Regions from separate parts of the Homo sapiens genome. Here all the other regions are linked to region 1. Evidence: fine-mapped expression QTL. A gene starts in region 1. Each other region holds a variant in brackets. All regions are shown on one strand. Distances are from middle to middle. Region 1 holds the start of LINC02693 (long intergenic non-protein coding RNA 2693). Region 2 has its middle 210 kb from the start of LINC02002. Region 3 has its middle 160 kb from the start of LINC02002. Region 4 holds the start of LOC124903954 (a long non-coding RNA gene). Region 5 overlaps KCNJ12 (potassium inwardly rectifying channel subfamily J member 12). Region 6 overlaps LINC02693 (long intergenic non-protein coding RNA 2693). Region 7 has its middle 46 kb from the start of KCNJ18.

Region 1 (4,337 bases):
TTTTTAATTTTAATTTTTTTGCCTTTGCGAACTCTTAATTATTTTGCAGCTCATTGATACATTTTTTAAAATGGTTCTTGATATGTATTCCAGAAGTTTTTGTTGTTTTCTGGTTCTTGTCAGCCCATGTTGCCGGAAATAAAATTCTTTCAACTTGTTCTTTAACAATTTACAGTATCCATATATTCCTTCCTGTTCTAGAGGCAATAGAGTGAGAACACACACTTAGGAGCCAAGCTGGCCTGAGATTAAGATCCACCAGCAATGTGACCTCAGTAGCCTATTTACATTCTGAGTCTCATAGGGTTGGTGTGATAATTAAATGAGGTAATATATGAACAACACTTAAAACAGAGACTGACACTGGTAAGGATGGACTTTCTTGTTATTACTATCTGAAAAAGTTGAAAAATTATGAGCCTGAGTAACAGTTATACATCTTACCCAATGGTTCACTAACCTCTGGTCCCTGGCTACCCCGGCCCCCTCTACCATGCAGTCACCCACACCCATGCTTATACTGATGGAGAGGAGTCAACTATGAGCTATTCACTGGATGACAAGCCCAGCTACTGTCACAGGTGCACCCCAAGTCCAGGACAGAATGCTAGCAGATAGCTGCTGGTCTGAGAAATGTCATCATCATATAAGCCTGAGTGAAAACACAGCCCCTTTACTACTAAGAAATCTGAAAACAAACAAACATAAACAAACATAATTTTAAATTTTGTATTTTTTATGATGTCATTTGTCCCAACAGCCATCTGACATCAATAGCCCTGATTACTAAAAGTCTCAACGTTATAGAAATGTTCTCCTCCTTTTTGAAAACCATGTTCATTTTTCCCCCACGATACAGCGCTATCTGCAAAGCCTTGAACTGATAACATAGCTCAGGGGCTAACTCTTGTCTTAGCAGAGTAGCAGCTGAAAAAAGAAGACAATTCTTAACAAACAGGGAGATCAGGAATGCTCACTTCTAAAAACATTATTTATTCAGGGCAAGTGGTATTTGTGACGTGCGAATGAAGCTTAAACTTCAGCTTTAATTTATAAGAATTAGGAAATGCAGATTAAATCTCTGATGCCATATTGTGAATTCAGTAAAGGTTAACTAATCTACGACGCAAAGACAAACGTTAGCTATCCTACGCTTATTATTCTGGAAATTTAATGAAAATTAAACAAGAAGACTCACAGAGTATAAGAATTGTCCCCCCGCCTTAACAGTGTTGTTTTCAGCCTCTGTTGCCTGAAACATTGCAGAATAATTCAGATTTTTTTAACCCCACCTTTTTATTGAGTAAAACCAAAGTACTAAACTAATAAATGTGAAAAAGGATGTTGGGTTTAAAAAGAAAAAGCCTCAAGACATCGAGCCTCTTAGATATTTTAAAAGTGAAGACTGAGAAGGAACGCACTGTTGCTAAACAGAATTATAGGATTATGGTCAATTTATAATCTTTTCAATATGGGATTTGAATGTTCTGATATTAGATACCGTGTACGTGCTTTATTTATATAGTACCTCCCGAGAAGAAAAAAACCAGTATTGGTTTATACAGTATTTGGCATGCTATTCACGTATGCAGTGATGTATACGATGTCAGAGCTAGAAAATAGCTTAGATACGATTTGGATTCAGCGCTGGGCGGCTCCGCCCCCGCCAAGCCCCGCCCCGTCCCCTCAACCCCGCCCGGCTCCGCCTCGTCCCCTCCGCCCCGCCCCGTCCCCTCCGCCCCGCCCCGTCTCCTCCGCCCCGCCCCGACCCCGGGGCATGCGCTGTGCGCCCGGCCGGCGTGGCTGGCTGTTTGAGGACTGCGCGCGGAGCTCCGTGGCGGGTGTCTGAAGTCGTGAGTTTACTGCTTGTAAGGAACATAGCGATCACTGGGAACCTGGAAGTAGAGACTCCTTTCTGCCATCCATCCGTCCCTCGGGCTGCTGCGAATCCCCCCGCCGGCCTCCAGGACCCCGGGCTGACTGAACGCCCGCACCGGTCCCGCCGCCCCAGGGCCCGCTACGCGCCCGGCATAATGGGAGAAAAATCACGACGGAAAGGCCCAGCCCCTCGCCATGCAGACGGGAAGCTTGGCCGCACGTGTGATCACCCTTACGCCCCTTGGAGTTTCACCCCCTCTTCGCGGGCTCCAACAGCCTGGGTCAGGCCTCCTTGTCCTGTGTGGGCCTCTCGGCTGCAAGAACACAGTCCCGAGCCCCGGCGAGCCCGCGCGCCTCCCACCCGCCGTGCACAGGCTGCACTTTACGCCCCAGCACTGCGCCTGCGGGACCATCTGGATCGCTTTTCCATTCTGATGACGTCCTGTACTTCGTGGCTGCAGGCTCCTCAAGCCCCAGGTCTGTGCAGAGACGAGCAAAGCAGCAGAATATCCGTGCCACAGCTTTCTGGAGCACCCATTTTACTACCAGATTTGGAAGGAACGAAGTTAAGTAATTTCCAAGGTAAGTAATTAAAATTTTACGATGAAAAGGCTAGAAACTCTTCTGCTGGTAATAACTGTCAGACATATCTGTGCCTGAAATGTCAGACTTTTTCTGAGAAAAAAACTGAAAACTTGTTTCCCATTATTTTAAATAGGAAAAATTATAGGGCACAACAAGTCAATAGAAAAAAACCTACCAATTTCCTAACTCACAGTGTGGCAGTAGGTTTAAGTTGCACATAAGTTAGGATGTAAAATGCTTAAATGTTGCCACTTGGTCACCCACATTTGATATGGTTGTTAACATGCATTTGCCTTGGATGCAGTAGCTGTGCGACCAGCAACATCACACGTGAACCTCCCCTTTGTCAACACACCAAAGCTTTTTGAAGTGACTGTCATGATCCTGATGGTCTACCAGTTGTTTCTGGAAGGAACATGTGGTTTTTTCCAGCAAACTATTTAGTTTAAAATGTTGTAATTTTTGAAAGCTCAAACATTATGTCTACAACCATCAGCCAAAAAATTTGAGACAGGTTCTTGCTCTTTTGCCCAAACTGCACCACGAAAGGGGTTCCAGCGATCCACCTGCTTCAGCCTCCCCAGTAGCTGAGACCACAGGTTTGTGCCACCATGCCTGTTAATTTCTAAATTTTTTGTAGAAACTACATCTCCCCACATTGCCCAGGCTGGCCTCGAACTTCTAGACTCAAGCAATTTTCCTGCCTTGGCCTCCCAAAGTGCTGGAATCACAGGCGTGAGTCACCAACCGCACTCAGCCTGAAAAATGTTTTGTGAGATAAATAGCTGCTATACAGTTTAGATATTAAAAACTAAGATGTGTTCTTCCAGGAAAGTTATACTTTCAGATATATTCTGTGTCACATCCTGTATGATGAAATAGATGGCAAAAAAAAAAAAAATCCCATTTAATTTAAAGATGGAAGCTGTAACTTCAAGTAAATTTGGAGCTGAGGAGTCCTTTCGGGCTATGACCCCAGAATTCTGGGGTTCTCTGTACTGATTTTTTGCTAGTGTCCACACACAAGCATTCCTTAATGCTGTGCATTAAACAAATAGACCTTTTTTAACCCCAGGTTTCTCTCCATTTACCATTCTGTTTCTCTGCTCCATGCAACTTCCTCACCTCATGTCCTCTCTTGCACCCACTCCTTTCCAGCTTTCCTCCAAGGTACTTTGCTGAAACGACTTTTATCTCAGTCATTTAGCTGCATTTGACACAGACGATACAATTGAGGAGTTCCACCCTTTCTTCTGGATTTTAGGGACCTTCCCTCCTGGATTCCCTCTCACCTTTATCCTCATCCTCCTGCTCCTCCTCCACCAGATCTCTAGTGATCCTCTCAGAATGATCCCACACAGTCTCATAGCTTTAAATACCATCCATCTGTTGATAACCACTAGGCTTGGGGCCTCTTCCCTGAGGGGAGCACCAAGAGTCATCCCTGACTCTTTTCCCTTCTCCCCCAACCCCCATGCAACCACACAGCAAGTCCTGTGGCTCTTGAGTGCAACCAGCATCCTGATTCACCATCTCCATTTCCACAACCAGTTTCAGTCACCTTCCTCTCCTACTGGGCTACTGCCAAGAATCCTCCAACCTCCCTGCATCTTGTCTTGCCCTGCTACAGTCCAGCCTCCACTCAAGCATCCAGAGTGATCTCTTGAAAATGTTAAAACATGATATAGGCATACCCCCACCCCTGTGTAAACCCTGCCACTATCTACTCATTGCAGTAGAATAAAAGCTCAGACAACCTGGTGCCTGCCTCTTCAGCCTCATCTCCTGCCCTTGCTTGTTCTTGCTATGTGGGTCAGATTTTCTGGTCTCCAGAGCTGAAAACAATCTTAACTGACAGACGTTAGATCATAGAC
Region 2 (4,337 bases), 500 kb before region 1:
GGCGTGAACCCAGAAGGAGGAGCTTGTGGTGAGTGGAGATCACGCCACTGCACTCCAGCTTGAGCGACAGAGTGAGATTCCATCTCAAAAATAAAATATAAAAAGAAAAAGAATTTGTGTCTTGTTTCCTCATTAATGTTGGTTGAAAGCATGTTTGCACTTGTCTTTGGCTTGTGTTTTCTTAACATCGATTGGCATATTAAAAGTCCCTCTGAGCTTACCTTCTCTAAAAAAATGTAAGAAAAAAGGCCTGTGGGAAGGACTATGAGGCAGAGGGGCTGGTGTGAGCACATGCTGGGCAGGAGGAAAGAGGTAATGACCAGGTCCAGGGAAATCCCCAAATCCAGCAGGTCAGGGAGCCAAATGAAAGCCTTTCATCCTGTATTGGCCACCTAACCCCATCGACACTCAAAGTGAGCATTCTCTCTTAGAGATACTCATTGTCCTGTTTTTTCTGTAACCTTGCAAAGGAATCTGATTTCTCCCATTAGCCTTTCACAGGACAAAAATTTCACATTAGAATGCTATTCTTTAGAAGGCATCTTCTTAGATTAGGCTGCAAGGAGATTGAGGAAGTTACTATCAGTCACTTATACCCCACAGGGACATTAATTCACCAGAGCTTTGGTGGGGGAGTAGAGGAGCTCATTACAAGCAGGTCTGGATGCTGCACAGAGTGTAAAGGGGGCAGAAGGATCCAGGACACCTAGGCCTGGAGACAGCGCCAATGCTGGGAGGTACCGTTATTATCCCCATTTTACAGAGGAGGAAACAGACACAGGCAGGTAATGTGATCAAGACCACGCTGCCCCGCAGTACAGGAGCCAGGATCTAAACCCAGGCAGCCTGCCTTGCCATCAGAGCTCTCACCCATAACCTTGTGCTGCTATTAAGCAGGATTGCCCTGTGGCCAGGGGCACAGCTTCTGGGTTCACGTTCCAGCTTCTCTACCATTTCCAGCTGTGTGACCTTGGGCAAGTTAGTTGTCTGTGCTCAGTGTCCTCTGCATAGTGGGTGTAGCAATACCTGCCTCATGCAGTCCCTTAAGTGAGTTAACAGCTGTAACATGCTTAGAATGATGTCATGCCCATCATCACCATCCACTACATATGGGCCATCATGCCTGAATCCCAGATGGACACATATCCTTGAAGGGTCTAAAATCTAGGATCCTGAAATGCCTGGCAGTGGGATCCTGAAATCCTCTGGCAGCATTCTAACATATTTTGGCTGCAGAGTTGTACCCTGTTTCCCGGGGCTAGAAGGTGTGGGATCAGCTGTTTACTCAGTTCAGCCCCAAAGTAGGCAAAGAAGGTTTTGTCACAGGCTTGCCTGGGGCCCAGCCCCTGTAACCTCCCCTTGTTCCTCCCTTGCATGCTCCCTCACCCATGTTCACACATGTACTCCAGGCCTTCTGGGCCCCAAGGGAAGGAGAGAGGGTGGGGAGTGGGTTCACTGGTCCACCGAAGCATGCTGCCTTCAGCCCTGCTGCACTGGTGGGTCCAGGGAATGGGCCTGGAGCTGAAGGGGTCTTGCCCTCCCTTTAACTTTAAGCCTTGATTTGCAGTGATCCAAGAGCTTCATCTCTTCCTGTGAGCCTGTCTGGATGTTTATGTTGGATGGCACAGGCCCCTTCTGGCAGGGGTGCACAGGCCAGGGCCTGGCTGGCAGCCATAGCAGCTGAGGAGACTTTGGCAGACGAGAAGACCTTCTGCTTCAGCTTCAATGTATGAGTCTTCTCCTGGCTCTCAGTACATTCCTCCTGAGCCATGATGGGCCCCAGTTCAATGAAACCTTCTG[T/C]GGCAGCATCATGGTATCCAGGGGTATAATCTGGAGCATGTGCCAGTGCTACCCCAAGGTATGTGGTTGTAGGGCTGAATAGAGCCAGAAGGGCTGGATCTTGTACCTCTCTTCCATGTACCAGCCCCATCCTTCAATCATCTTGTTATTTTCATTTTGAATCCCTGTTTTATTCTGTCTTCTGAGCACCTATCCATTCATTTATCCATTCATCCATCTATTCATCCATCCATTCATCCCAGCATCAATCTATCAATCCATGCATCCATCCATTTATTTGTCTAACCACCCACCCATCTATCTGTCTATCATTTAGCATAAGGATTGATCAGAAGCCTCCTGGTTCTGGAGCCATAGACCAGACACCATGGGGAGACATGATGAAAAACAACATATGATTTGTGTGCTTGAAACAGAAGCTAATGAGTGCTTACCACCTGCCTGGCAGTCCTGCATTCAGGGTGCAGTTCTCCCCTCATCCTGAGCTTTTTGGTACCTTCTGTAGTTTCATTTTGTACTAGAGAATGCTGAGCCTCATAAAGTGGGGTCACACAGCTGCGTAGTGGAGTTTGGATTGGAGCTCAGATGTGTGTGATTTCGGCATCACCCTCTGCCTTGAGTCCGCCACTCCAGGGTCTCAGAGCCGCTGAGCATTCTGGGGTTGGTCAGCTCTAACCTTGGTGGCATGCATTGAGCAACTCTCCATATTTTGGAGTCTTAATGTATTCCTAGCCTTAGTGATGGCAAGGACCCTGCTTTGAGAGACCTGGGTTCTAGTTCCAGTCCTGTCCCAAATTTTCTGCGTGATCTTTGTCTTTCTGACACAAGCACCAATTTTCACAGCCTCATAGGGGTATTACAGAGGTCAGAGAAGATAAGAGATATACGAATATTAGTAGACTGTAGAGTGTTTTGTTTAGGTGAAGGGCTGTCAGGTCCTGACAACCCTCTGGAATGAACATGTCAGAAGTTGTAAACCTTCAATGCCCAGAGAGGTGGAGTGCCTCTTCCAAGGTCACATAGCTAGTCAGAGACAGACCTAGGGGAAAAAAATGAGAGAAACACAGATTCTCACTTGGGCTCTGTCTCTAACTGCCTGGGAGACTCCTCAAGCCCCTTCCCTCTCTAGGCCTCAGTTTCCTTGTTTTTACAATATGTGAGACAGGATGAGGGGATGGATGGGGAGGATATCTGGGGGCCCTGCTAGAACTCACCTCTAGGGCCCAGGCTTGGGAATCCCCAGAACCCCCATATTGTTCTTTACACCTGGGTGGCTGTGCTCAAGGGCTCAGGGAGGGTGAACTCTTGCGGCCCTGGACTCCCTAGCCCTTCCCCTTCTGTGGGCCCACCGTGGGCTGTCAGCGTGTTAGGTGCTGGAATGGTCTGAGCTGGTTTGTAGTCATTTCCGAGGCAGTTTTATGGCAACCTCACCTCTGTCCGTGCCATGTCCTGAGCAGAGGTCCTGGGGAGAAGTCCTGGAGGCCAGAGCCACCCATGTCACCACTAGCCACGGTAGTCCTCTTTCCTGTGAGGAGGCTGCACCCTGGGAGATGGCATTGGGTGGAATGGAGCATCAGTCCTGACCTCCCCGTTAAGCAGAGGTGGCTCTGGGACTGTGGGCAGAGATACTGGAGTGGCAGTGGGAAGCGAAGTGGAGGAGGAAATATTCCTGGCTACTAATGAGTCACAGTTGATAGACTCATGGCTTCATGTGCTTTGGAGGCAGTGTGGTGGGGTGCAGATGGCTTATGTTTTGGTGACCTACAGGCTTACATTCAAATAGCTGTTACCTCATGTTCCACGTCTGTGACCTTGGCAGGGGGAGCTCCTCAACCCCGAACCTTGCACAGCTGAGTGGGAGAAACCAGAGGGGTCTTTTGTTGTCAGGGACCTGGCATCATGCCTGGCACAGAGCACTTGCAAAATCTTCATTCTCAAGATTGGCATTTGTAGCTCTGGGGGATACACAGAGAGGTCTGTGTATGTATGGGCAGGTACATGTGGATAGGTGTGGGTCGGTTTGTGTGTGTGGGAGTGCATGTTTCAGGGACACAGGCTATCAAAGTCAGCACAAGGTGACTCCAATAAGGGAAGGGAAGAAAGCGTATGGTAAACCAGGAAGACACTCTAGAGATGAGGCTTCCTGCACCCCACATGATCTGTTGGTGCCTGTGCCATTGTAGCCTTCAGTGCTCATGCTTGTCCTACCCTCAGGGTCCTCCCCTGTCCTCCCCTGGATCTCAGTGCCTGGCTTGTGGAAAGCTTCAATAAATGGGGAAACATAAATATAAAGGAATATAACTAGCTAATTAGGGTAATTAAGTGAGGAGTAGCCATTTCCAACATGCATTAAGCTGTCCCTGATTTTTAGGGGCTGGAGGTCTAGTGAGAGAGACAATTTGCAGCATGATGGGGAGGAAGTAGAATTCACAGAGAAGGTGAGCTTGGCTTTGTAGGTTAAGTAGAAATTCACCAGGCAGAGAAGATGTAGGAAGATGCTCCAGGCAGAAGAGCAACAGGATCAAAGCCATGTGGTG
Region 3 (4,337 bases), 560 kb before region 1:
TTTGGTCTGATAATTGTGAGTAGCAAAATCTAATGGTTGTGGGACACAAACTCTGTTAACATTGCTAACTGAGGTATGCATTCAACTATTTTTGTATATACTTAATAGTTTTTGATGCTTCCTGGTGTACCTCTTGCTGTGGATTTCAAGCCAGCGTCAAAGATCTTGTTTGTATATACATATATTGAGGAGATATAGCAAAGTAAATAGTTTCTACAGGAATCCATGTCATTGATTTCACACCCTGATAGGCAGCAGTTGTTCCAGGATCTCTGCTAAAACTCCTCATATCTAATAGCACTGCAAATAAGAGAATGGACTTTACTCATGCCAAAGTCAAACAGAATCCTCTAAAAATTTAAGGGAATAATGGTTTTAATGCAAATATTTCTTTTTTGATTTCTAAAATATAGCTTTAGAAATTTACTTGAAAAAATCTATATGGTCTACTCTTGATACCTTGAAGAAAAATCTGTCCTGAATTCTGGTACTTTTTTTTCTCTAGACAAATGAAAAAGGATTTTAGAAGACTACTTTACCAGAACTCTTAACATCTAGCATCTTTCAGTTGTATGTGATTTGGGGAAAGAGATAAGGTATTAGATACATTTCTGCCAATGACAGTAGACAAAATTAAAATAACATGGACAAGGACAATTTCATTGCAAATATCTGTTCAGCTCAAAGCAATATAAATCTATTTTATACAAAGTTATACAGCAAATATATTCAATAGCTTCGATCTTGATGACAATTACTTCATAAAGGAAAAATATTTCAAACATTTATGCAATGATATATTGTCAACATGCAACATGCCCATGCTAAATATGTACTTCATTATTTTCATTGTCAACAATAATTCTTTAAATCTCCTCTTGTTCTAGCTGCCACTTAATTTGTCAGAATTTTCTAGAAAGGTGTTAGAGATCAAGAATGTTTTTTAAAATGCTGACAATAGAGGAAAAGGACATTATTAGGAAAGAACAGAGAGACAGTGGTAATAACCAATTTTAACATTTTTTCAGAATACAAAAGTAAAAATAAAAAAAGATAGTAGATTCATGTTATGACATGTAAAAAAAAGTATGCTTAAGAAGTGTTTCTATTTTTTGTTTTGTCTATCTACTGGCAACCTCCTTTATCCGCTGTAAAATGCTGCTAGGAAAAGATGCTGTAGAGAACTTACAGATATTTGTATAATTTTATATCTCATTTTAAAAAGTATGCCAATGACCAATAGATGTATGCTAATTAAGGTAATCTGCATGGATCAAATTGAGCACCCCAGATTTCAAAAGATATTCAAAATAATTTACCTATGTGTATCTTGATTCTGGTAAAGGCTGTCTGTAGACTTGGTGGTCAGTGAGTAATTACATCATAGTAAAAATCATGTGGCTTCAATTAAATAAAATATTATTTCCTTAGGAATATAACAGTATGCCTCAAATATGTGTGAAATATATTTCTACTCTGATATGTAAAAACCCAATTTTCTAATATATTGTGTACAAGAAGCATGACGGTTTGATGTTGCAAACCATAGTTGGGTGGTCTGTTAGATTTTATAAGAAACGTAACTGCTCTGTAGGATCATAGAGGAATGTGTGGGAATCAGATAAGAGTGATGAAGTGAATATATTGGCAACCTGGAGGTTTGAAAAAGACACCTGAGCAATTCTTGTAATTTTTTATATTTCCACACTATACAGCAAAGGCAGAACTAAGCACAGAAAAAAAATGGTAATAAGGCAAAAAGGAGAAAACACGATATCCTTTCATTGTCTAACATGATTTTTTGCATGATCCATGGAATAAAAATATAAAAAACTTTCATAAGCAATATAATCTAATTTGCTTATAAACAAAAAAAGCTGTCTTGGTCATTAATATATTTAATCTAAAATAATTTTCATTTAGGGAATTTTATAGATGCTTTGAAGTATCAAAATATATCTGTACATAATTATAGC[A/G]CTGATTATACGAGTTGCAGAGGTAAATTCTGCTTGAGCAAACATAAGAAAAGAGCATATGTTTTCTTTTTTTTTTTGCTTCATAGACATTTTTTCTTTTTAGAATAAAGCTCTCTTCAACCAGAAAAATATATTTCAGTATCGTTTTTAATTTAAAAATAAGTCATGTGGTCTTTCATGATTAGTCCCTGATTTGAAAGCTTAGTCATTTGGGAAAAAATAAATATTGTTCGATCAACACAGTATTTTCTTCTTTAAACCTTTTATTCACGTCTTTGAGGCTTTAAAAATTTCGCATCTTTAATATTTTTTTAAATTAATGCCCCTTTTAACACCTAGAACTCATTGCCTAGTGAATTCCTTAATGTAGTCTCCAATGCATAATACATAGCTAAGCTTCCTTTGGACAGGTAATACCTCCTTTTTGATTGATTAAAAGGAAGTAATAAAGTATTAAGTAAAACACTAATTGAAATATAAATATTTTAGATTATTAGATAACCATCATAAAAACTATTCATACAGGAAATTGAAACCATTTCATTGCACGTATTTTACTAATTACATAATTTGTAATGCATGTTCTACCCTGTGAAGAATAAAAATACTATCTTTCCAGAGTATCAAGTATGTCATTGAGAATTTTATTGTTAAACATTAGCAAAGACAAATAACAGCTTGTGCCAATGCAAATTGCCTGGAAGTTTGTTGATACAGATGAAGATGGACAGATGGTTTTCTGTAAGCAGTATCATCATTGGTTTTCTACTTAACAGAAATGAAGGACCTCATATTTATGATGACATATTAGAAATCATGAGAATGAAGTTGCTCATTTTTCTTCTATTACTTTGCTCTATCAAGTAGAGACACTACTAGGAGAGTGCCTAGTGAGTACTTACACAGAGTGTAAAGTTATCCATTCTGTTTAGGTGATCTTGCCCATAATCATGGTCCAATATAGTATACCACTCTTGCAGTAAAGAGTGGTTAGCCATCGATTTTAAAAGTTCTAAGTCTATATCCTTATCGGAAGATGCAGACAGAAGAGGGAATTGTTTGAAGTTTATGAGTGTAGAGTAGGGAGAAGTAGCACATGCTTGCATCTTACTTAGAGTTGTCTGAGTGGTCATAAAATCAAACCACCTGTTTAGAAATAAGAAGTACTTAGTGGTAACAGAAACCAGTAAGACAGAACACATCTTCAATGACCTCAGAAGAAGATGCATAAAGAGCTATCACAAAAGGTTAAAACTAAAGGAGAGAAGAGGGATCAGTGAAACAGGAAGATGTGTACAGTGATAGTTCTGAGAAAGGTTCTTTTACCCTAAAATGGCTTTTGTTTTTATTTTTTTGAGACGGAGTCTGGCTCTGTCGCCCAGGCTGGACTGCAAGCTCTGCCTCCCGGGTTCATGCCATTCTCCTGACTCAGCCTCCCGAGTAGCTGGGACAACAGGCGCCCGCCACTATGCCAGGCTAATTTTTTGTATTTTTAGTAGGGACGGAGTTTCACCGTGTTAGCCAGGATGGTCTTGATATCCTGACCTGGTGATCCGCCCGCCTTGGCCTCCCAAACTGCTGGGATTACAGGCGTGAGCCACCGCGCCCAGCCCCTAAAATGGCTTTTAAGTGTTTTCTTGAATGAAAACACCAGATATATTCAACAGCAATACTAACACAAAAAGACTTGGCAGCTGGGTGCAGTGGCACACGCCTGTAATCCCAGCACTTTGGGAGGCTGAGGCAGATGGATTCATTGAGGTCAGGAGTTCAAGATTAGCCTGACCAACATAGTGAAACACCATCTCTACTAAAAATACAAAATTAGCTGGGCATGATGGCGGTTGCCTGTAATCCCAGCTACTCAGGGAGCTGAGGTGGCATAATTGCTTGAACCCGGGAGGCAGAGGTTACGGTTAGCCGAGATCACGCCACTGCACTCAAGTCTGGGTGACAGAGCAAGATTCCGTCTCAAAAGAACAAAACAAAACAAAACAAAAAGACTTGGCAAACAAACCATTGTCATTCTTTGGCTAACACTGTTTTAACCATTTCCAATTTAAGGTCCAAGTGTCCAGACCCCCACGTCTGTAAGAGAACATTGCTAGTCACAAACGTTCAGGAAAACAATCCTAGATTGTACTTCCTAATAACTAATTAGAAGTGTCTCTGCTGCAATTTGATTGAATCATCTCCAAGGAAAAACACTGTTGTAAAAAATATATAAATAAATATATATAATTATGTATATATGGGCATAATTTTAAATACATTTCATTACATTGATGTGCTCTCAAAAATACTAAACATGCAAACTAAACTCCTGTTGCTTAGACAATACTATAGATACATGTAGTCAAT
Region 4 (4,337 bases), 890 kb before region 1:
TTGGGGGTCAGCAGGGGAGACAGCAGGGCTGAAGGTGTAGAGGGGGCACCCTGCACTTTATACCTGGGGCAATGCAACAACAAATGTGCCAGGTATGTGGACACACACCTAGAGGAAGAGTGCTGTGCACCCTCAAAGCCTGGTGAGGATCAGCAAAGCAGCCCCTCTGGGAAGCTTGTTGGAAAGGCCAACTCTCAAGACCCTCCCCACCCCTGATGCACCAGAACCTTCAGTCTGACATAGCTCTGGGTGACTCCCCTGCTCCCGAGGTCTGGGATGAGCTGCCTGAAGCACTGGCTCTCAATCTGCCTGATTGTCAGCACCACTTGGAGAGCTGGAGAAGTTCTAAAAAGACAGATCTCTGGGTGCTTCCATCCCTGGGATTGTGATTCAGTAAGTAAGGGGTGAAATACAATAATTTATATCTATGTTTTTAAAGCTCCCCCAGTGTTCTGGATGCTTAGCCAGCCTGGGGACCCTCTCTCTGCTCTTCGGGTATCTTACAGGTAAGAAAGATGTCATTGTAAGCTTTTATCCTTGGAAACACATTCATTCCAAACATATCGAAAGAACGTACTAGGCTGTGTTTGGTGGCTTATGCCTGTAATCCCAGAGCTTTGGGAGGCCCAGGTGGGCAGATCGCTTGAGCCTAGGAGTTTGAGACCAGCCTTGACCTCCTTGACTTCTGGGAAGTTTATGAGGGACCTGGACACTGTCAGAGTGGTTTTTTGTTTCCCTTTGTGTACAGTTCTGAGTTCATTATTTATGTATTAGGGTTTGGAATAGGATCATATAAATATTTCGTATCTTAAAATAGCTGTGAGAGTGTCACTAATCTGCCCCTGAGCTGAATATCCACCCCCCACCACCATTTTAATCCTCCAGTCATGTGAGGGAGGATGGGAGTCTGTGTGAACGTCTTTCTCACTTGTGTTCAAAGATCATATCTGCCTGTCTCATCTGTCAAGAGTGTAGAGTTTGTTGTGATGGTGTATTCAAAATAGACGAAACGTGTGGTCATTGTACTTAGCAAACAGCTTTTCACATCAGGATGTTTCTGCCCCCGGCTCAGGGCTGGTCCAACTGTGTGACGAATGTGGCTCAGTGCAGGTGTCTGGTCTGCCACCCTCAGTCCCACAGCTGCAGTGTTAGAAAAACAGTGCTGTGGGCACCCAGCGTCGGTGACATGAGGAATATGGAATAATGAATACTTAATTCACATGTGCTTATAGAAAAAACTTTAAACAATAAAAATAACCAATTGTTAGATTTACATCTTTTTCTGTCACTATATATAAAAGGAATCAAGAATTTTCATGCAGCTTCCGGGTATTCTTGAGACTGGTATATCGTTTCTTTTTGAAAAGTGCATTATTGCATAACAACACCTAAATATATTTTTATATTTTTATATATTTGTAAGCATATTTTAGCTCAAAAATAGCAAAAGTATACATAGCTTATAGCACAGTTTGGGAAATGCTGATGTATATGGTAATAATGCATTGTTTGAGATGATTTAAAATTATATTAGGATATTAGGAGCCCAATATAGTGATCCAAATTGAGATCCTCTTGTCTAGTATCCTTTAAAATGACAAAACATCAAATCTAGAAAATAGATAAGAAGTGAATTTTAAGATAAAGGTACAACAGATTTTCTATTTTTACAAAAATCATTAGTGATTTTCAAAAATATATTCTAGAATTCAAGCTGTTAATTTAAAAAGTGCATATTTAATAATAAAGTGAACAAAACTGGCTGTTAGAAAAAACACTTCATCTTGCTGTCTCCAAATCTTGCAGCTTTTCGAAGTTTCAGAATTTTGTAAAATATTTTGAATAGCCCAGACTTTCTGAAAATGGGTGTAGCCTTTCAAAGTATTAGAATTGAGAAGCTTTTAAATGCTAATCTTATTTTATAAAGTGTTGACTTTTCACTGTAGACTAATAGCAAACAGTTTGTAAAGAAACGTAAATAAAAAATGTAAATAAATAAAATAGGCTTATTAGTTTTCAAAAAAATTTATTTAAAAGGAAGGGGCAATGTAGATTGGAGTAAGGAAGTATGTGAAAATGTATTTTGTGAAAGAAATCAACTCACGCACACACACACAAATGC[A/G]CACACACACACACACACACACACACGCCTCAAAAGCAAAACTCCAACAATGCAGCTGTTGTTCCTTTGCAGCAATATTTATCTCACCTTGAGTGAGTGAGGACCATGCTGCTTGGAAGCGTAATAACTTAAACACCTTGCCTATGTCTAGTGATTAAAAACTAAGCTCTACTCAGCTCATGTAATGCCCCTGACCTCCACCAGAGAGAAATTCTAGGTTATTCCTTGTGGGCAAATGTGTCCATGGATCAGCGGATCAGGGACTGCTGAATCAGATGTGTGTCCCTCTCTACATGTCATGGTTTGTAGAGATCAAAATTTTCCCTGAAAACACACAGGTTTGTGAAGCCAGGTGGTCAGCCAGTTTCTGAGGCCTAATAGGGAGGCCAGAATCCTGCTCCCAGGACAGGGCTGGGTTGGGGATGTCTGTGGTGATATCATCTCCAGCCATAAGCTCCAGGGCAATGCTGTCTGCGATGAGGGTCTGGGGCATCCTGAGCTCCTGGAGAAAGCTGGATGCAGTTAAGAGCTCTATGAAGATTGTATGTGGTGGCAACGCTGTTGGGGTACCCCATGGGTAGCCTAGAGAAGAAGTACTGTGTCCCACTGCAGATGAAGGTGAATTAAGGCAGAGAGGCTATTGAAATAGGCACTGAACAGAACATGATAGCCGAATCTATAATAGCAAAATATTTACCAGTTGTAGTCCCAGGTACTCAGGAGGCTGAGGTGGAAGCATCACTTGAGCCTGAGAGGTGGAGGCTGCAGTGAGCCGTGATCATGCCACTGCACTTCAGCCTGGGAGACAGAGAAACACCCAAACTCAAAAAAAAATTACTACATATTTATACATACAAAATTGCACACACACTCACACACATACATACACACAGACTCACATAAAAGTAAAATAAATACATTGTATCCATCACCTACACCACTACATTTGAAGCCGTCTTCATGGTTGGCCCTTTGGAAATGTAACCATTTGCCTCCCCATCTAGGACAATCATTCATCTGAAGCTTTACAAAACATATTATTTCCCTGACTTTTATACTTTTATTACATAATAACATCTCTAAATAATATATTGTTTATCTAAATAATATAGTGTTTAACTTTGTAAGTTTTTACACTTTCTATAAATGTGCTATGTATCTCTGTAACTTGCATTACTCATTCCACATTGTATTTTCGAGAGCCTTCTATGTTTTAGCTTCTTGTTCAATTCTATGTATTGCTTACTAATTAGCCTTTAAATTGAATATACTAAGACCTACCCGAGAAGGAATTCTTGTGGGATAATGAGTATACAGTGCTTAAAGCAGTGCCCCATTCATTATAGGTATTCAATATTATATATGTAATACTATATACAATATTTTAATACTGAGTAATTATATACATATTATGGTTGCTCCTTTCTTTGTGGATGTACATTATTTCATCAACTGCACTATGAACTAATAGTTTTCTTTTGGGGGAGGGGGCAGGGTCTGGCACTGTTGCCCAGGTTGAAGTACAGGGATGCAATCATGGCTCACTGCAGCCTGGACCTCCCGGGCTCAAGGATCCTCCCACCCCAGCCTCCTGAGTAGCTGTGTCAAACGGCAGTGCCACCACTCCCAGCTAATTTTTAAATTTTTTGTAGAGATGGGGTTTCACCATGTTGCCCAGGCTGGTCTCTAACTCCTAGCTCAAGCAATCTGCCCACCTCAATCTCCCAAAGTGCTGGGATTACCTGTGTGAGCCAGTATGCCTGGCAAGAGTTTTCAAACTACGGTAAAATTCAAGTTACAGAGACCTTTGGGAAATGCCTCATTCTAGGTATTTGAAGCTTCCAGATAGCTAAGATTAAAAATTCTTATGTACTAACTTGTTTCTAAGTGTATGCTTTTACATTTAAACAAACTAAAAACATGAGCTTTATTAAAAAAATTCAGCCATTTCCAAATTCTCTTCCAAACTTGTTTAGAAACATACATGACAGAGCTTTGATCAGATTGTGCAAACTGCTGTGTGTTCTGTTTTTAAAATATTACTTAACTTGTACACTTCCACACATTGGCATTGCACATCATTGCCATTTCCAATACGTTCCTGTGCTTCACCAATTTCCATAGCTGTCAGAGGGAGAGCAGCCCAGGTGACAGGAAATGAAGTTGTCTGGCTCCGAGTCCTTACCAGGAGGACTTCTGAGATCCAGAGTCTTTG
Region 5 (4,337 bases), 150 kb after region 1:
GGTATATGGTTGAGTGGGTGGATGAACAGATTAATGGATGAATGGGTGATGGGTGCATGGATGGATGGATGGATGGAATGTTGGGTGATGGATGGGTGGAGTGAATGAGTGGATGAGTGGATGGGTGGATAGATGGACAGGTGGATGAGTGTATGGGTGGGTAGAGAAATGAATGGATAGAGGGATGGAAGGGTGGATGGATGGATAGATGGGTGAATGGATGGGTGGGTGGATGGGTGGGTAGATGGATAGATGGATGGGTGGATGGGTGTGAGGGTGGGTGATGAGTGGGTAGATGGATGGATAGGGTGTTTGGGCGAGTAGGATAGATGACTAGATGGATGAGCAGGTGGGCACATGGCTAACTACGTGGATGGGCACACATCAGTAATTTGCCAGAGATTTGCCTTGGGTACACATACATCCTACATGGTCCCTGCAATCCCAAAGATGCAATTTCCCCACCTGTCAAAGGGATCCCCCTGCCTTCCTATCCAGTGTGCCGTGAGAATCAGAGAAGAGGTTGGTGGGAAGGGGCTCTGAGGATCTCCACGGTGAGCCACCTGACATGCTTCTCACCTCCGCACCTCCCAGCCAGGGAGTTCATGGGGCCTGCCCTTTCCAAGGTTACAGCCAAGGCTGGTTTGTCACACTGGTTTTTCTGGCTGGAATTAAGGCAAATGTTGGTAAGTCACCCCCACCTCATTAGCCTCCTGGGACAGGTGACAGTGGTTTAGAGGCACACAGACCTAGATTCAAATCCCAGCTCTGCCCCTCATAAGCTGTGTGACCTTGAGTGAGTCACTTCCCCTCTCTCAGCTTGTTCTGAAATGGGATGGCCTGCCTGGTCTCTAGTGGCCCTTCAGTCCCTCTTCACCCTCCAAGTCCCCCAATCCCCAGCCCCTTCTTCCCCATCCCTCATCATTCTGGGAGCAGAAGCCACAGGCCTACACTTTGCCTCTCTCAGCCATTCCATCCTCAAAACTGATGGGGACACAGAGGTTCAGAGATGGATGGGTGGATGGATGGACAGGTGGATGAGCTGCAGAGGTTCAGAGAGGTTCTGTCACAAGCCAACATCACACAGCTGGGGACCTCCACGGCAGGGACTTGGGTCCACCCCCTTCCCCGAGTGGGCCAACACTGTGCAAGCCCTGCATGCTTGGCAGCTGGCTGCAGTCATCCCGATGCTCACAGCCCTGCCTTGGAGGAGGGACAATTCTCCCCTCTGGACAGATAGGAAAACTGAGGCTGAGAGAAGCTAAGTCACCTGCCCAGTCACCTGGAGCTGGAACTCTGAGCAGCGAAGGTCGGATATTGCCACAGGGCCATGGGAAGCCAAGCAGGGGTGGGGGCCAGAAGTGTGGGCAGCAGCCCCTATCCACGTCCTGCTGGTCACCTGGCTTGCAGCAGGCTCTCCCAACCTCGTCCCTCACTCCCTACTACCTGGAAGGGGCATTCCCCAGACCACAAATCCAGCTGGATTTGTTCTTATCTAGGAGGAAGGCAAAATTAGCTCTATTCTACACAGGGGTACTGAGACGTAGAGCAGAGAAGAGACTTTCCTGAAGTCACAGTGCAGGGCAGGACCCTGCAAACAGGAGCCAGCCTTCCACATGCCCTGGCCAGAGCTCCCGCCACCTGCAGGGGCCACAGCAGCCGCCATGTGAGCTCACCCCGCCAAGTCCCACAAATGCTTCCCGGGGTTATGGTCACAATCCTGGATGGGGAGGTGGGCTGCAGGGGCAGTGCTTCCCCATGACCACGACTGAGGGCCAACAGGCCGGGCTGGCCCACAGCGTCCCGCAGGGGAGGGCAGGGCCTGGGCTGAGGCTGGGGCTGAAATCCCCCACGGAACAGGGCAAGGCACTTCCCCTTCCTGAGGCTCAGCTTCCTCTGAAAAACGAGGCTGGTGTCGCCTGCCAGGCCTCTCAGAGGGTGTGCCATGAAATTGAAGGTGGTGA[C/T]GAAGCTGCAGTCCGGGCACTGGGCCTCGCCCCAGCGGGTCTCTGGGAGGTGGCAGCTGTCACCCTCCCTGGAGAGGCCTGGCAGCCCCCCAGCTCACTGGGGCCTGAAACTCCCCATCTGCAAAATGAGGAGACCCCACACACCTCGGGAGACTGTCACAAGGGTAAGCCAAGCCCTGGCTTCAGTATCTGTCCCACAGAGACGATGCAGCAGTGTGGGTCCTGCAGGCGTTCACTGTGACCGGCGTTCCTGACACCACGTGGGCACTGAAAGCAGAAACAGGCTTCCCAACAGGACGGAAAGCTGGCTGTGCCCAAGCCTCCCTGTGGCCTGCTGGATGTCCTCAGAAGCCCCCCTGGCCCGCAAGGAGCCACAAAACGCACAAGGGCAGGATCTGCCTCGCTGTTCCATGCTCGGGATGCGCCCGGCCCACAGAGGATGCTCAGAAAGTGGAAGCTGCAGGAACCTTGAGTGACACTGACCCCTCACATTCCGTGGCGTAAAGATGGGGGCTGGACATATGGACCCCAGAAAGAGGCTGCACCAAGCGGCCAGAAAAGGCAAACGTCCACCCTTAAGCCCTGAGGTGAGGCCAGGTCAGAAGGTTCTGGCCCCACAGAGTGGACGACAGTCACACCAAACACCAGGGAATGTTTCTGACGGTATTTCTATCTTGAGAACATCCTTCTTCACAGAGGGTGGGGGCAGGAGGGAGAGAGGGTGTCCTTGGCCCCAGGCCCCTGGGAGAAGCAGAGAACAGAGGCCCTACAGTAGTGCCCTCTGCTGGGGTGGCCATCGCAGACACTGCCCCATCCCTGGGCTCCGTTAAGTCCTAGGAACAGGGGAGACCTGGAGGGTCTTGGGGCCCTTCTAGGACTCCTGGCTCTGCCCCAACTTGCTGTGTGACCTGGAGCAGGGCTCTGTCCCTCTCTGGGTCTCCCTCTTCAAGTCCTCACTGGGCACCGAGGACTTGAAGAGGAAGCATTGGGCGCCTGCCTTCATGGGGCACCCTGCCTCACAGGGCAGACGGTGAGAAGTCAGCAGTCACAACTCGCTGGGCCCTCGGGAGCCCAGGCGAGGTGTCTAACCCAGTGGCAGGAGGGGTGCTTCCTAGAGGAGTATCTGCCAGTGGGGAGGCAGCAGCGAGCAGCAGGGGAGAGAACCCCGCCTGAGACCAACCATAGCACAGTGACACAGCTAGGAGCACCAGAGTCCTGCAGTCTTGGTGCAGATTCCAGCTTCACTCTCCAGGCACTAGGCCTTGGGCAAGACCCACCCTGACTGTGTGCAAACCAGGGGGCTGGCCCAGCTACTCCACAGAAGCCCTGCCAGCCCTCCATTCCAGGATCTAAACTATTCGGGGTTTGTGGGGAAGGTGTGAAGAGATGGGCACAGCCTTGCCACCATCATATCAGGGAAGCTCAGCGTGTGCAGGCACAGAGGCCGAGGCATCACCCCAGGAGGCCTCGGATGTCATATTAATGAGCCTAGACTTGATCCCAAAGGCAATGGGGAGCCCAAGGGCCATAAGAGAGCTTGAAACTATAAGAGTTCTGGGGCAACAAGGCATGAATTCAAATCCTGTCTCCATCCCTTCCTGTGTGGCCTTGGGCAAGCCACATAACCTCTCTGAACCGCAGTTTTCTCACCTATAAAATGGAACTAATCATAGCACCTATCTCATGTGGTTGCAATGGGGTTTCCATGAGTGAATACATGGAGACTGGCCAGCTGGGAACTCCCTGTCCTCCCACCCTCTCCCTTCATCACAGCTATGAGCCTCTGCCTCACCCTGCAGAGAGTCACAGGCCCCTTTAGGGCCTCAGCTGGACCCCACTCCAAGCAAGAAGGAATGATGGGCAGGAACCCCAGCGGGAGGCACAGGTCAGCAAAGGCACCCTGGCTTCTGATTTTCATACAGCTGTAAATTTTCCAGCTTCAACTTAATTTGAGTCTCAGACATGTCCTGAGCAGCCAGCATGTGCACAGGAGAGCAAGGACACAAGGTAAGGACACAAGAAGCATCCTGGGACCAGAAAGACCACCAAAGGAAAGGCTGGGAAATTTGCCAACATAAAAATATGTATGATGTTGTCAAAACCAATCGTAAGTAAAATAAAAGAAAAATAATGTGTTTGTTTAAATCGGACCCATGTGCTTAATATATAAAGAGTTCTTATGAATCAATAAGAAAAAAGGACACAGTAGGAATGAGCAGAGAGCTAGGGTTGGGCTTCCAATGTCTCTGGAATGTCCCACACCTCAGAGCCTCAGCCAGAGCTCGCCCCTCACCATGAAATGCCTTTCTCTGCCTCTCAGAATGCAATGCATCCTCCAAGCTCAAAGGATGCCTCCTCCATGAAGTCTTCCAT
Region 6 (4,337 bases), 8.1 kb after region 1:
GAAAAGAGATTTATTTGGCTTATGATTCTGCAGGCTGTACCAGCCTGGCACCACCATCTGTTTCTGGTGAGGACCCTAGGAAGCCTCCAGTCATGGTGGAAGGGGAAGTGGAGCAAGGAAGAAAGGAGGTGGGGTGCCACGTGCCTTCCAACAACCAGCTCTCATGTTTCATAGAGCAGGAACTCACTACCACTGGGACAGCACCAAGCCATTCCTGAAGGATCTGCCCTCAAAGACCCAAACACCTCTCACTAGGCCCCGCTTTCAACATTGGGAATCAAATTTCTTTCTTCTTTCTTTCTTTCTTTTTTTTTTGAGATGGTATTTCGCTCTGTCACCCAGGCTGGAGTGCAGTGGCATGATCTCAGCTCACTGCAAGCTCTGCCTCCCAGGTTCATGCCATTCTTCTGCCTCAGCCTCCCGAGTAGCTGGGACTACAGGTGCCCACCACCACGCCGGGCTAATTTTTTGTATTTTTAGTAGAGACGGGGTTTCACTGTGTTAACCAGGATGGTCTCGATCTCCTGACCTTGTGATCTGCCTGCCCCGGCCTCCCAAAGTGCTGGGATTACAGGCTTGCACCACCACACCCATCCTAGGCCCCATTTTCAACATTGGGAATCAAATTTCTTTCTTCTGTTTTGTTTTGTTTTGTTTTGTTTTGTTTTGTTTTGTTTTGTTTTGTTTTGTTAAAGAGATAATCTGACTCTGTCACCCAGGGTGGAGTGAAGTAGCGCAGTTATAGCTCACTATAGAAGCCATGGCTGAGCTGAGCCGTAGCTTACTGTGGCATCCAACTCCTGGAGCTCCAGAGGTCCTCCCACCTCGGCCTCCTGAGTAGCTGGGATAACAGGCTCAATCCACCATGCCCAACTAAGTTTTTAATTTTTTGTAGAGACAGGGTCTCACTAGGAGGTCAAATTTCAACATGAGATCTGGAGGGGACAAATATTCAAACTGTATCAATGTCAACAGGTTTTTTTTTCCTCATAAAAGAGTATCTATGTGTTAGGAACTTTAGATGTTCAAAAAGTGGTGGGGGGAAGAAATATATAATAAGGGACACACACTTTATAATTTCCTCACATTTTAAATTACTCCAATAACTAATACATAGATGGATTTATGGGTCTGGAATTTTTTCAGTGAGACATTTGTTTATAATTAAAATATGGATTTTATCTCCTTATTCCTTTTTAATTCAGTCCGAGGCCTGAGCCACCATCAAAACCTTCCTACATTGAAGCTGGGGTTTTTCCCTGAAAATGTTGCTTGTTAGGAAAAAAGGAGGCAGTTGCCTTGAGCCAGCTGACCTTGGCCGCCATGCCGCTCTCACATAGGAGTGTTATTCAGTGGGAAGTTTTGCTCTCTGCATCGCACCGCAGCCCCTCAGCCATGAACTCAGCAAACACTGTCCCATTTTGCCCCCAGTAACAAGCACAGGGGCACCATCACAGGCTAGTACCCAGTGTGAACTAAGTCTTGGGAACTTACTGGAATTGTTGGAAGATATGCCCCTTTTTAGTAATGCACATGGCTGTAAATATTAGGTACAATTTGATTTCAGACTCAATTCATTATGTGTTTTGGCTCAGCTGTGGCCTGCATATGGTGTTGCTGATATAGAAATGAAAATGCTGGTGAGCCACAGAAAGAAAAATCCTGTGTTTTCTGAAAGCTTCAAACACCTTTGGCCTTGTTCCTTAATCACCTGGGAGGAAGAGAACCTACAAAAACTGGAAACGCAGTGGCCAGCAACCAGCCCTTGAGAGGCTTGCTGAGCTGTGAGGGTCTGGAGGAGGAAGAAGCTCTACATTGTTTCTGCAGCCCCCGTGCAAAACAATGTTGAATTCCAGCGTGATATTGAAATGAATGTATTTTATTTTAATGTTAAATCTTAAATTTTTTATTAAGTCCTTTGTTCACAAATGGAAACAACAAAATGACAAATTATTTAAAATTTTCAGATTTTATAACCTTCCTGTCCTCTAGCAAAAAAAAAAAAGAAAGAAAGAAAGAAATTTGATTCCCAATGTTGAAAGGGGGGCCTAGTGAGAGGTGTTTGGGTCTTGGGGACAGATCCTTCAGGAATGGCTTGGTGCTGTCCTGGTGGTAGTGAGTGAGTTCTTGCTCTATGGAACATGAGAGCTGGTTGTTGTGAAAGCGCGTGGCACCCCACCTCCTTTCTTCTTTGCTCCACTTCCCCTT[C/T]CACCATGACTGGAGGCAGCCTGAGCTTCGGAAAGGAGGCAGTCCTTTAAGACAGCCGTGTCCAATATAAACAGAATATGAGCTATGCCTGCCTGTAGTTTTAAATTTTCTACTAGCCAGGTTAAGGAAACTAAAGAGAAACAGATGGAATTGATTTGTAATAATATAATTTATTTGACCCGATGTATCCAAAATATCATTTTAATGTGTGATCAGTATAAAAATACTAATGAAACGTTTTACATTTCTTTGTCCTAAATCTTTAAAACTCACTCCATATTTTACACTTCTAGCATATCTCAGTTCAAAGCAGCCAGATTCCAGATGTTCTGAGGGCTCTGACTCCCTGAACTCAGGAAGGTGAAGGGCCTGAACCCCACTTCTCTGCCAGGAGGGAGGGAGCTCCCCCTCCCTACCCACATCTCTTCTCAGTCCCAAAGGAAGAGAGAGTGCCCTGAGAGAGCAGGGGCTGCCAGCAGGAGGTGGCCACAGGTAGGCCACTGCTGCCCATCTGCTGCTTGGTGGGGCCATTCTCCCCTCCAGAGATCAGAGGACAGCGGGGTCCCAGGAGGTGGGTCCTGTCCACAGCCTTGACCTCCAGAGTTTAGATTTGGAGGGAATAGATTCCAGACAAATGCCTTACCTTGCTATTTGGCCTTTGCCCTAGTGGTCAGGCTGTCATCTATTTCCTCCTGTGTTGTGTGATACTGTGTGAGTTTTAAGCACATACATGTCTACATGCATTTCTTTATAATTCAAGGGACCCAACTTCTAATAAGGGGAAAAGGAATTCAGTACCTAGACGGTCCCTATAGTGTGCCAGCTAACTTGTAGTCAGCATGTTGTTAATCCTGGCATCCTGTCAGCTCTGGGTGTGTTAGTTAGCTGTTACTGTGTAATGAGCCATCCCAAAACTTATTTAGCTCATGATTGAGCAAGTCAGCAATTTATGGCAGGCTCCTGCCATAAATTAATTGCTATACCTATAAAACCTGCCGTACCTTTATAAGGTATAGCAATCTTCATGTGTGTGTATGGGAGAAGGGGGTCAGCTGCTGGTGACCAGACAGCTCTGCTGTTGAGAGTGAGTTGGCTTGTGGACTGGGCAACTTTGGTTCTCTTCCGCAAAGTGTTTCATCCTCTAGCAGGCTAACTTGGGCTTGTTGTCACGGAGATAGCACGGTTCTGAAAGAAAAGGAAGAAGCATTCAAGACCTTTTGAGACTGGGCCCAAAACTGCCAGCTGGATCCAAGTCTTGGGAAACAGATTCTAACTCTGGATGGGAGCAGCTGTAAAAGCGCATTGCAAAGGGTGTAGACACAGGGAAGGATGAAGAAACACGTATAAAGCACTTCACATGTTTGGAAATTCTTTTCATCCCATTTTGGTATTTGTAGGCTATTACTGGTCTTCAACACAGACTAAATCAAAATGCTGTGCCCAAAACAACCTCTTACTCTGAAAGCAAGTGATGTAAAGATAGATCTGCTGAAAAGACATTTCCTCCTGCTGCAATTTAGTCAAGCAGCTGAGCACGTCTTGAGCCGTCCTTTGATTTTAACAGGGCAGAGCTGTTTTCTAAGACTGCCCACCACCCCTCCCCGCAAAGCTGAGATGCTGCGATGAGGCAAATCCCCGCAGCACACAAGGAAATCAGGCACAGCTAAGGTTCTCACCCCTGATGCACCTTACAATCACCTGGGTGGCAGGGGGCTTTTAAAATTCCCAAAACCCAAGTTGCAACAGACCAGTGAAATCAGAATCCCTGGGGTAGGATCCAGACATCCTTGCTGTTTAAAGCTCTCCAACTGGTTACAATGTGTGGCCAGAATTGAGAACCACAGCATGAAACCAACGTCTTTTGATGAACTAGTAGCAAATGGTTTCTTAAACGAATGTGAAGTCTTTGCTGCCGAGCTGTAGCCTTTCAGTCTTAATTGCGTTATTTACATTACTTACTTACTTACTATCTTTTGCAGGACTTGACCTCTGCTCCTCGTTTTGTTTCTGATTCAACTCAATTTCACAAGTGCTGAGTGCATATGATGTGCAGAGCACCGTGCTAGTTATTGTGGCCTTGGTTTGGGGAGGACTTTGCTGGGAAATAAAATCACATCGTCAGAAATAAG
Region 7 (4,337 bases), 190 kb before region 1:
TGGGCGTTGGCTTTCCTGGAAGATCCAGGGCAGGACGTGAGGCTCTTGTATGAAAACAAGCCTCAAGTGGACTCTGCAGCAGAATGCCAGCCTTGCATACACTTCCAGACTCAGTGAACGGCATCCAAGAAATGTCATGGCTTGAATGGGCAGGGACCCCCTGGGACTCCCTTGGCCCAGCCCCCGGCCTCAGCTGCTCCATGACTTAGAAGCGGGGAAGCTTTGAGATGGCCTCCTCAGGGTGCGCTGGGGAGGTCTCTTTGCCATGTTCAGAATTCGCCCTGGCCTGGGCTCCCCTGGAGCTCCCTTGAGCTTCTCTGAACCCCTAGGTGACAGGGGAAGAAACCCTCAGATGGGTGATCACGGCCCTTCCCGCCCCCTGGTCCCAGGCATTGATGGGGCTGTGGCATTTGCTTTTCCTTCCTCCAGGGGTCCTGGCTCCACTTAGCTTCCCACTCCTCCTGCCCCCTCCAGAGCAGCTGCGTCCCTGCGATCAATATGGAGCTGATCAATCTATCTGTCCCTCTGCTTGGCTGAGGAAGCCAGCAATGATGGCCACCTTGGGACCCCATGAGTGCTCCTGAGACTGTGGCATGTATCACCTCCTCACTGCACAGGTGGGGAAATTGAGGCCTCCAGAGGGTCAGGGCTTCCCAAAGCTCCCAGCAAGTCTGTGGGGTGGGAAGGGCTGGAACCTGCTCAGCTGGCTTCTCTTTCAGACATCACGTCTGTGATGCATATGGTCCTGGGTGCCCTGTGTCCCCGTGGCCATGCCTCAGGGGTCCTGAAGTGCTAAACCATGAATTCATCAAATGTTGACTGAGTGTCTGCTCTGGGTTGGGCAGGCCCTGTGCATCCAGGGATGCCTAAGACAAGGACCCTGCCCTCACGACGGAGCTGATGTTCTCATCGGGAGCGGGACAACACTGAGATGTCAGGTGGTAGTGAGCACTGTAAAGAAAAATAAACCAGCGAAATGGGAAGGAAAAGGTCAGGGAAGACCTCCTGGAGGAGACATTTGAGCAGATGCCTGAAGACAGTGCGGGATGAGTCACAAGATGCCAGCAGGAAGAGCTTTCCAGGCAGGGAGCAGCAGTGCAAATGCCCTGTGGTCGGCATGTGCTTGGCACTTGAGAAAGTTGCTTCAGAGCTGGCAGAGCTCACAGGCCTGGCCCCTACTGTAGGCACTCAGCCTGGCCTCCATGGATTCATTCCACATACTTTAAACATTCCAACTAGGGGCCAGCATTTTCAAATCTAAGATTTGTTTCCATAAAAAGTCCTGATTTCCAGCCTTTCTTAAGAAATTGAAACCTAGAGTCAGGAGTGTCCACCCCTTTGGCCTGCCTTATCCACCCTCTTGCTTGAGTCCTGCAAGGGCTTGTGGCCCTGGCAAGAGGATGTGGTTGGGGCACAGATGGCACATGCGTTATCACAGGTTTCTGCTTCTTTATATTCTGTCTGGAGAAAAACACTGGTGATTGAAGCACGGTTGCCACCCAACGAGGCAGAACTGAAAGGTCACTGAACGGTCTTGACCACATTCTCCTGGTTGTCACCAGTTGCTGGCAGTTTGCAGCAATCTCTCCACCTTTGGAAAGTCGGGGGTGGGTGGGCGTCCACCGCCCCTTGCTGTAGCTGTGCCACCCCTAACTGAAATCTCGGGCAGGTCACTTCGTCACTTGGTCAAGGTCCTCCATGTTTCTGTGCCTCAGTTTCCTTGTCTGGAGAATGGGGGAAATGAACACTGGGCTGTCTAGCTTAGGACAGAAACAAGAGCAGTCAGGGGCTTTGATGCTTTAGGGCTAAACATCTTACTCATTTTCAAGTTATGGTGAGAGAGAGAATGTTTGGGGACGTGCCAGCCCTCAGATTTCAGCCAAACCCAAGCTGGCATTCAGAGCCTCTGAGGTCTCG[G/T]CATGGACACACCCAGTGTCCATCCCTTCCTTCTCCTTCCCATCTGGGGCCCCAGCCACCTGGCTTTATCTCCCACTCTGCACCCACTCACTGTGCGACTCATGCTTTTGAGCACCTGTTGTAGACCAGGCCCCTGCTAGGATGAGTGGCAGGCTGTGGTTTGAGCAGGCCCCTGGGGACGGGCCTGCTGCAGGCCTAGCTGTGCTCCCATCCTAGCCTGTCAGGTGGGCCCCATCCCACCCCCATGGGCCCCTGCTCTGACCCTCAGGTCATTTCCCAGTATCCTTTGCCCTCAGGCTTCTGCGCTTGGTGGTGGTGGGGGAGCGGGGCACGTCTCTCCTTATGTCTCTCCTCGGATGGCCTCCTAGCAGCGGCCACCTGCCCCCACCAGCCCCATGGCTCCAGACACCCCTGCCGAGGCTCCAGCTCCCTTCGCATGAACACAGCCCCTGGGACTGGTGACCCTGTTGCTTTCTTCCCTGCCTCCAGCCTGGGATGGCGGCTTCCTGCTGATTTCAATCCTGGATTCCTCCTCATCCCGTTTAGCTCTCAGAGCCTTTATCACAGTGTGACCAGCTCCCTAGACGCAATTCTCTCTGTTGGAGAGAACTGGAGGGCTTCTTTTTCCTGGCTGGATCCTGCCTGATTCCGTGGCCATGTCCTGACTGCACAGATCAGAGTGGTCTGGCTGTGGGCCTCTTTCCTTGCCTGAATCATGAGCTTCCTGAGGACGAGGACTGATGGGCTTCTTCCACAGTAATAGACTCAACTTCGAGGAGGCCTCAGTGATGTCACACCTCATGATGTCAGCTGATACCACTTCTGCAGCAGGCACAGCCAGGGCCAGTCAGGCAGCTCCAGGGCATGAAGTGTCTGTCCCTACCCCCAGCCCTGAGCATCACCTAGTGGCAGGGGAGGCCAAGAGGGAGACCCCTGGCCTGCAGTCTCCAGGGCAGAGAATCAGCCCAGTCAGCAGAGCCTGCTATGATCTCTCTCTTGCCCTCTCAGTACTGGCTGAGGAGGGGCCTGGACCCCAGACCCAGGACTCCTCTTCATTCTTGTTCCCACAGGCTTGGGGCCCTCACAGTCGCTCTGGGCTGACTTACTCCCAAGTCCAGCCCGTTCCTAGGACCAGGTGTTTGGGGCTCAGAGGGTTTGTTTTATGGCCTTGACTCTCATCAGGGCCTGTGGCAGAGCCCAGCTTCCCCTGCTGAAGCCTTTTACACAGCTGGACACAGACCCAGCTACACAAGGGTGCACAGGGACACAGACACAACTACACACAGATATGTACATGTGCGCACAGACACACATGGGTATGCACAACACAGACACACAGGGACACATACAGTCACACATGAGTACACACAGACGCGGACACGTGCACACATGGACACACATGATCACATACAGACACACAGGGACATACAATCACACATCAGTACACACAGACACACATGGACACACAGGCACACACATACAGACACATCTGCATAGGCACACACACATATACATGGACACACAAATATAGATAATAGAGACATACATATCTATACCTGCATAGATACAGAGACACAGACATGCAAATACAGATACGCCCAGACACACACACGCAGCCTGGGGCTGTGATGGGGTAATGCCGGGTGCCTGGTGTCCTGGCCCAGCCTGGTGGGGCGGCAGGCCTGAGGGTGAGTCCCTTCACCCCATTAGCAATGCATTTTCAGAAATACAGAGGCAGCAAGAAGAGGCCAAAGCCTTGGCCAGCATCCGGGTGGTTTCAGGTGACATCTGTCATGCGGAGAAACACGCCTCACGGTTCTCCTCCACCTCCCCAATGGCTGCCCTCCAGCTCACAGGCCCTCCCAGACGCCTTTTCCTTTTCGCACCATCAGTGTCTCCGCCTTTCCACACCATCAGTATCTCCGGGTTGAGGCTGTTGAGGCTGCAGGCCCCCGGGCACGTGCCAGATGCGGACGCTGTGGGCATTTCCGCTCAGCTGCAAGAACAGCGCCACTGAGGCATCCAGAGGCTGCAACCTCCACCAGCAACAGTCACGTCCGTGGTGTTTGTGCTTCACTACAAGTCCCTGGCCAGCAGGCTGGCAGGTTTCATTTTCATTTTCGTGGGCACTGTGCACGGCCCCATGTTCACAGGAATCCAGGCACGGAGTGGACGTCCCCTCCCTGCCGCATCCCCAGCCTCTCGGTTCTCTCCAGAGGTCAGCGCTGGATTGTTTGTGTGTCCTGCTGGAGATTCCCGTACACACAGCATTGCTATGACATCTTTTTTGTGGTTCTTTTTTGTTTTGTTGGTTTTTTGGTTTTGGTTTTTTTGAGACAGAGTCTCACTTTGATACCCAGGCTGGAGTGCAGTGGTGCCATCACAGCTCACTGCAGCCTCAAACTCCAGGGCTCAAGGGA

Evidence for each region. PIP is the estimated chance that this variant, and not a neighbour inherited with it, causes the effect.
Region 2: its variant is fine-mapped to the expression of LINC02693 in whole blood (TOPMed, PIP above 0.99).
Region 3: its variant is fine-mapped to the expression of LINC02693 in whole blood (TOPMed, PIP above 0.99). The same link has a PIP of 0.9 or more in blood mononuclear cells and monocytes.
Region 4: its variant is fine-mapped to the expression of LINC02693 in whole blood (INTERVAL, PIP above 0.99).
Region 5: its variant is fine-mapped to the expression of LINC02693 in whole blood (TOPMed, PIP above 0.99).
Region 6: its variant is fine-mapped to the expression of LINC02693 in whole blood (INTERVAL, PIP above 0.99). The same link has a PIP of 0.9 or more in monocytes.
Region 7: its variant is fine-mapped to the expression of LINC02693 in pancreas (GTEx, PIP 0.93).

What each region holds. Positions count from the first base shown.
Region 1 is chr17:21,549,119-21,553,455 of GRCh38, reverse strand. LINC02693 (long intergenic non-protein coding RNA 2693) reads left to right here and starts at 1,778. Exons shown (of 2, transcript NR_160801.1): 1 at 1,778-2,460. RefSeq lists a silencer at 1,715-1,884.
Region 2 is chr17:22,054,111-22,058,447 of GRCh38, reverse strand. No RefSeq gene overlaps it. Among named protein-coding and RNA genes, the nearest start is that of LINC02002, 210 kb to the left of the region's middle. The variant T/C (reference allele first, on the strand shown) is at 1,801.
Region 3 is chr17:22,104,690-22,109,026 of GRCh38, reverse strand. It overlaps the pseudogene UBBP4. Among named protein-coding and RNA genes, the nearest start is that of LINC02002, 160 kb to the left of the region's middle. The variant A/G (reference allele first, on the strand shown) is at 1,977.
Region 4 is chr17:22,438,724-22,443,060 of GRCh38, reverse strand. LOC124903954 (a long non-coding RNA gene) reads right to left here and starts at 2,920. Exons shown (of 2, transcript XR_007065672.1): 1 at 2,820-2,920; 2 at 2,010-2,728. The variant A/G (reference allele first, on the strand shown) is at 2,123.
Region 5 is chr17:21,403,099-21,407,435 of GRCh38, reverse strand. The region is part of intron 1 of KCNJ12 (potassium inwardly rectifying channel subfamily J member 12); the gene reads right to left. Among named protein-coding and RNA genes, the nearest start is that of KCNJ12, 29 kb to the right of the region's middle. RefSeq lists enhancers at 1,790-2,290, 2,698-3,197. The variant C/T (reference allele first, on the strand shown) is at 1,965.
Region 6 is chr17:21,541,041-21,545,377 of GRCh38, reverse strand. The region is part of intron 1 of LINC02693 (long intergenic non-protein coding RNA 2693); the gene reads left to right. Among named protein-coding and RNA genes, the nearest start is that of LINC02693, 8.5 kb to the left of the region's middle. The variant C/T (reference allele first, on the strand shown) is at 2,209.
Region 7 is chr17:21,736,805-21,741,141 of GRCh38, reverse strand. No RefSeq gene overlaps it. Among named protein-coding and RNA genes, the nearest start is that of KCNJ18, 46 kb to the right of the region's middle. The variant G/T (reference allele first, on the strand shown) is at 1,918.